2 linked regions of the Homo sapiens genome follow. The protein of the gene in region 1 binds, or shares a complex with, the protein of each later gene. Each region holds a gene or a part of one and is shown on either strand. Other genes may lie near its edges. The genes, in order: KAT5 and BRD8.

Region 1 (2,527 bases):
GCAGTGGTGTTCTGAAGAGTAGGCATGGATGCACAAAGGTGGTCTTTGTGAAAGGCAGAGATCATTCTGGTTGGGAGGCAGAAAAGGGAGGATGAGGGAAGGCTCGTACATGGGACAGAGCTTAGGTGATGAAGATGCTGTGTTAACCACCATTTTGTAATTATTAATGTGGACCTGGGCATCCAAGTGGCAGTACCCAGCAGCAGGCGGTTAAAAAGCAATTCCTGGGCTGGGCACGGTGGCTCACACCTGTAATCCCAGCACTTTGGGAGGCTGAGGCGGGCGGATCACAAGGTCAGGAGATCGAGACCATCCTGGCTAACACGGTTAAACCCTGTCTCTACTAAAAAGTACAAAAAATTAGCTGGGCGTGGTGGCGGGTGCCTGTAATCCCAGCTACTCGGGAGGCTGAGGCAGGAGAATGGCGTGAACCCAGGAGGCAGAGTTTGCAGTGAGCCGAGATTGCACCACTGCATTCCAGCCTGGGAGACAGCAAGACTTCGTGTAAAAAAAATAAATAAATAAAAAGCAATTTCTGGCTGGGCACAGTGGCTCATACCTGTAACCCCAGCACTTTGGGAGGCCAAGGTGGGCCAATCACTTGAGCCCAGAATTTCGAGACCAGCCTGGGCAACATGGAGAAACCCCCAGGTACTCGGGAGGCTGAGTTGGGAGAATCACCTGAGCCTGGGAAGTCAAGGCTGCAGTGACCCACGATTGCATGATTGCACCACTGCACTCCAGCCTGGGTGACAGGAGTGAGACCCTGTGTCAAAAAAAAAAAAAAAAAACCCACAATGTCTGAAATGCAGGAGAAATCGTGTGCAGAAGTAAAGCAGCAGGATTCATAATTTTGCTGGGGTAAACCCTAAGGCAGTTATTTTGTTAAATTCCAGAATTCCTTAACTCTGTTGTAGAGTAGCAGATCAGTTCCCAGGAGGTGTGACTGTGGATGTAGAATGTTAGGTTTTTTAACAGCTAGACTCCCAAGACTGTTAGATAGGGAGTCAGTGGTCAGAGTCTCACTTTGGACACATTAGTTTGAGGAGCCGTGGTCAGAGTCTCACTTTGGACACATTAGTTCGTTGGCTGCTGTTAAAAAACATTAAAAGGCAGTGGTCTCTCCTGGTCAGGCTTAGAATGGAGGTGTGCGGAGCAAGGCGGGAAACTTGCCTGACTGAGCAGGGAGGCACTCAGACACCATCACACATCTGGCACACAGGCTTTTCAACACTGAGGAGCAGCCCTGCCTAAGCTGCGGGCTGGTGGAGTGGGTCAGGCCCAGCCAGGGAAGAACACTCATCACCTAGCAGCCTGGGGCATAGCACGAACAGTGAAGCTCCTGGTTGACCCTGAACCACTGGCCAGGCTCAAGGCGGGATACCCAGAGTGGTGACAAGCCTTTTCTCTTGCAGAGTTATTCCCAGAACCTGTGTCTTTTGGCCAAGTGTTTCCTTGACCATAAGACACTGTACTATGACACAGACCCTTTCCTCTTCTACGTCATGACAGAGTATGACTGTAAGGGCTTCCACATCGTGGGCTACTTCTCCAAGGTCAGTGCCTGCCCAAGCTGTCCCTGTGCCCTGTCCTGAGCCAGATCCCTTCCCTGACACTCACCTGTCCCCCTTCTCCAGGAGAAAGAATCAACGGAAGACTACAATGTGGCCTGCATCCTAACCCTGCCTCCCTACCAGCGCCGGGGCTACGGCAAGCTGCTGATCGAGTTCAGTGAGTATGTGTGCTGCGGCCAGGGGGTAGTGGACCCACTATCGGTGCCTCACAGGCAGATGGGCCAGGCTACTGTGATTCTCAACCCTGGCTGTGCAGCCCAGCCTCTAGGGGAACCAGCCAGAAATAACAGTGGCACTCTCCCGGGGTTCTCTCCGTTCAGGCTGACTGCCCTGCTTATCTGGGGTAGGTTCTCAGCCCCCCAGTTTGCTCCTTGGCCAGGGTTCTAAGTGCCACTCAGCTTTCCCCAAATCTGACTTACGTGCTCCTGCCTGGAGCCATGGGCAGAAGGTTAGTGAGCCGCTGGTGCTGATGTATCTGGTAACGTGTGCCATGATACGAGTACTGGGGCAAGGACCAGTGGCTAATGTCCCCAGTTGTCCCCTGAGCCTTGCAGGCAGGTATCCAAAATGCTGTCAGCAGATAGACATAAGCATGTTGTCCCTCGCTCCTTGTGTCCAGTGAGGTCAGTCTCTTAAAGCCAGAAGGGACTCTGAACTTCATCACACATGGGCTCTTCAGTGCCCTCCCCAACCCTGAGGCCCCTTCTTCCCAGCCTCTTACTCCCCATCACCCCCCATTCTGTCTGTCTCACCACTCACTTGGAATAACCAAGCTCTGACCTGAGAAACAAGGAGGAAGTTCTAGCTGTTGACCTGGTGAAGACACAGAGGCTTTACCTGATCAAGGTTATGGTCCATTCGAGAAATTTTATTGGTTAAATGATGCCCAGATGGGGTCACATCCTCAGAACTTCTCAGCCTGGTAGCACAAGTGGATGCTTGAAGAAACTCAG
Region 2 (4,019 bases), on another chromosome or scaffold:
ATACTCGGCTGCTTTGCTTCTTACAGTAAGAATTACTTAAACAACTCTCCTACTTCTGCCCATCTCCATCTTTGTAGCCCTTTGGTGCTAACATACTAGTCATCTCCTCAGGTCTACCCATGTTACTGGTTTGCACAGGACAGGTGCCTCTTCATTGTTTGCCTCCACTACATGGAAAAAATGGAGCGAAAAGCTGCAGATTCAAGCCATCACATTTGGTGCTAACAAAAATTGAAGGACTTGGGCTTCTTTCTGTGACCTCAATAGTCTTGTGTTTTGTGGGACAGGTAGATGATCATCCTGAAGTGCTGGATGTGGCAGCAGTGGAAGCAGCACTGTCATTTTGTGAAGAAAATGATGATCCTCAGTCCCTGCCTGGCCCCTGGGAGCATCCTATCCAGCAGGAGCGGGACAAGCCAGTACCTCTCCCTGCACCAGAAATGACGGTCAAGCAAGAGAGACTGGACTTTGAGGAAACGGAAAACAAGGGAATACATGAACTGGTGGACATCAGGGAGCCCAGTGCAGAGATCAAGGTGGAACCTGCAGAACCAGAGCCAGTCATTTCAGGAGCCGAAATAGTAGCTGGAGTTGTTCCAGCCACAAGTATGGAGCCACCAGAACTCAGGAGTCAGGACTTAGATGAGGAACTGGGAAGTACTGCAGCTGGAGAGATTGTTGAAGCAGATGTTGCCATTGGGAAAGGCGATGAGACTCCACTTACAAATGTGAAGACAGAGGTACTTAAGAAAGATCGGGGCTGGGGAGATGGAGGTTTATACCTTAGATAAGAAGTGACAGCTTAGGCTTTTTGGTTTTCCAGTTGCATTCCTGAGTTCTGACATGTTTGATGTGTCCAAAGCCCATAGGCTGTGATTAGTGTTATATATACTTATTCCTGTTAAGGTGACCATTGGAGTCACATTACATGAGTAGGACTTAGAATTTCTTCTATGGTCTCATTATCACTGAAGAATAAAGTTGTGTGAGCTATAGCGATTTATCAGTACTTAGGGTGTTTTTTCTTTTCTGGTTTTCAGGCATCCCCTGAAAGCATGTTGTCTCCATCACATGGCTCAAATCCCATTGAAGATCCTTTAGAGGCAGAGACTCAGCACAAGTTTGAAATGTCAGGTAAATAAAGTCCTCTTTCACTGACTTGAAATCATTTGCTTTGGCTTCTGAGGGGTTGTGGGTTGTGGGCAAGTAGAGGAGGTAGAACAGGTCAGCATGTAAAGGAGAGCTGCAGGGGATTATGGTCCATAGGAAGGGGAAGGCTAAGGTGGAAAAATCTTCAGGTAGTCTTTCTCTCCTCTGCAGACTCATTGAAAGAAGAATCAGGGACTATTTTTGGAAGCCAGATAAAGGTATTTCAGACTTTTCTTTATTCCTCTTGCCATGTGATTAGATTTCCCTATAGCACTACTTTTTAATGAATTTCAGTAAAGTCACATCTTTATTCTCTGATAAGAGACTGGTATGGAGTTGCATGGGGAAAAGCTGCAGTAGACAGGCATAATGGGAGTACTATAGCAACAGGTGCCTCCCATATGAAACAGCATGTGAATATCACACAGTCCTTAAGAAGGCTTGATACACTTAGAGTGATTTGTAGTGAATAAGGATACCTGAGCCAAGGAGAACATACAGGAATCAAGTTTATTAATTAGACTATCCAAAGAGAATCATCCAGAGTTTTCTTTTTAGAATTATTAAAGCAGCAGTAACAGAGGCTTAAAGAATGTGATGTGAGCTTGCTCCATCAAATGAGACACAAAATAAAAATTATTTTTGATAACTTTGTACCCAGGGTCAGAGTTACTCTCGAGCAAGGGGAAAGAAGGAACGCCTCTTAGCTTAGTCTTAAGTAAGTAGCTTTTTTTTTTCTTTCTTTTTAAAAGATCCTGGGTATTATTCTTTGTCCAGGTTCTAAATTACTTAACGCAGTGTCTGTAAGTAGATGGTAGTATAAGTGATAGACAGCTGAGTCAGGAAACAGCGTGAGGTCATTTCTAGAACTAATTCTAACCCAAAAGACAGATCATGTTTAATGATGCTTTGCTGGATAGCTTTGCTTGCATTTGTTAACTGGAGCATACTGTATCTAAGGATGCCCCAGGTGAGGATGAGGAGGAAGATGGTGTCAGTGAAGCGGCCAGCCTAGAGGAGCCTAAGGAAGAGGATCAAGGAGAAGGCTACTTGTCAGAAATGGATAATGAACCTCCTGTGAGCGAGAGTGATGATGGCTTCAGCATACACAATGCTACACTGCAGTCACACACACTGGCAGACTCCATCCCCAGCAGCCCTGCTTCTTCACAGTTGTGAGTATCTGAGATTCTTTCTTTGAGGCCAAGGCAGTGAAGGTGAGGAGAGGATCTTTTCCTTCCTTCCTTCCTTCCTGTCTTTTCTCTTTTCTTTTCTTTTCCCTTTCCTTTCCTTTCCTTTCCTTCTCTTTTTTCTTGTTCTCACTCACCCATGCTGGAGGGCAGTGGTGCGATCTCAGCTCACTGCAACCTCCACTTCTCAGGCCCAAGCAATCCTTCCACCTCAGCCTCCTTAGTAGCTGGGACTACCAGCCTGTGCCACCACACCCTGCTAATTAAAAAAAATTTTTTTAGTAGAAACCAAGTTTTGCTACATTGCCCAGGCTGGTCTCAAACTCCTGAGCTCAAGCGTTCCACCTGCCTCGGCCTCCCAAAGTGCTGAGATTACAGGCGTGAGACACCATGCCTGGCCTTTTTCTTTATTTTTAAATTTTTATTTTAAAAAAATTTTTTTAAGGGACAGGATCTATGTGGTCCAGTCTGGTCTTGAACTCCTGACCTCAAGCAGTCTTCTTGCCTTGACCTCCCAAAGCAGTAGAATTAGAGGCATGAGCCACCATGCCTGGCCTGATCTTTTCTTTAGTGTTTCCCTTTTTTGACCTGGAATAAACAGCTGACAAGAAATAATTAGGGCTGGGCATAGTGGCTCACACCTGTAATCCCAGCACTTTGGGAGGCTAAGGCAGGAGGATCGCTGGAACCCAGGAGTTCGAGACCAGCCTGGGCAACACAGTGAGACCCTATCTCTACAAAAAAATTAAAAAATTAGCTGGGCATGGTGGTATGCACCTATAGTCCCAGCTACTTGGGAGGCTGAGGTGAGAGGATTGAGTCTGGGAGGTTGAGGGTGCAATGAACATGATCATGCCACTGCACTCCAGCCTGGGGGACAGAGTGAGACCCTGTCTCAAAAAGAAAAGAGAATTATAATTTTTATTTTTTAACTTGTGCCTAGTGGAATTGCTGTATCTCTGTTTCAGCTCTGTCTGTAGTGAGGATCAGGAAGCTATTCAGGCACAGAAAATTTGGAAGAAAGCCATCATGCTTGTATGGAGAGCTGCAGCTAATCATAGGTGAGTGGGCTTTACCAGTCAGTAGGTTCATTTTCTCCTACTCTTCATTGTTGGTGACTGGAAAAAAGTCTGAGTAGGCTTCTGTGGAACTGCTGGTATTAGTTCTTACTACCTTTAGTTACTTAGAGTAAGTTCCCTCCCTGCACTTCTGGAGAATGTCAGTAATTGCACCTTATTCCTTTTGGACAGGTATGCCAATGTCTTCCTGCAGCCTGTTACAGATGACATAGCACCTGGCTACCACAGCATTGTGCAGAGGTGAGCCATGGTCCACCCAGCATGGTAACTTGCCTGAATTATAAATTGTCCAGTCTTAGTGAAGTTTTGCTTTCGATAGAAAGTTTAAAGCAAGTAAGTTTATGGTTTTGCTATAAGGGGCACTGAGTGCTAAACTGATAATTCCAGTGGCTAGATCACCACTGATAGTCTAAAAGAATAAATCTCCACCAGGAGCGGTGGCTCACGCCTGTAATCTTTGGGGGTGCTGAGGTGGGTGAATCACTTGAGCCCAGGAATTCAAGACTAGCCTGGGCAACATGGCGAAACCCCCTCTCTACAGAAAATACAAGACTTAGCCAGGTGTGGTGTCGCGCATTTGTAGTCCCAACTACCTGGGAGG

What was found.
Region 2: KAT5 (region 1) and BRD8 share a complex: the UniProt entries of both Homo sapiens proteins name them as parts of the SWR1-like complex.

Annotation. Positions count from the first base shown.
Region 1 is NC_000011.10:65,715,252-65,717,778, forward strand, and holds part of KAT5 (histone acetyltransferase KAT5), read left to right. Parts: intron 1-1,415; coding exon 1,416-1,556; intron 1,557-1,637; coding exon 1,638-1,731; coding exon of another isoform or gene 1,732-1,735; intron 1,736-2,421; exon of another isoform or gene 2,422-2,527. UniProt on the Homo sapiens protein: Catalytic subunit of the NuA4 histone acetyltransferase complex, a multiprotein complex involved in transcriptional activation of select genes principally by acetylation of nucleosomal histones H2A and H4.
Region 2 is NC_000005.10:138,161,435-138,165,453, reverse strand, and holds part of BRD8 (bromodomain-containing protein 8), read left to right. Parts: intron 1-287; coding exon 288-740; intron 741-1,040; coding exon 1,041-1,134; intron 1,135-1,320; coding exon 1,321-1,367; intron 1,368-2,109; coding exon 2,110-2,324; intron 2,325-3,307; coding exon 3,308-3,400; intron 3,401-3,589; coding exon 3,590-3,658; intron 3,659-4,019. UniProt on the Homo sapiens protein: May act as a coactivator during transcriptional activation by hormone-activated nuclear receptors (NR). Isoform 2 stimulates transcriptional activation by AR/DHTR, ESR1/NR3A1, RXRA/NR2B1 and THRB/ERBA2.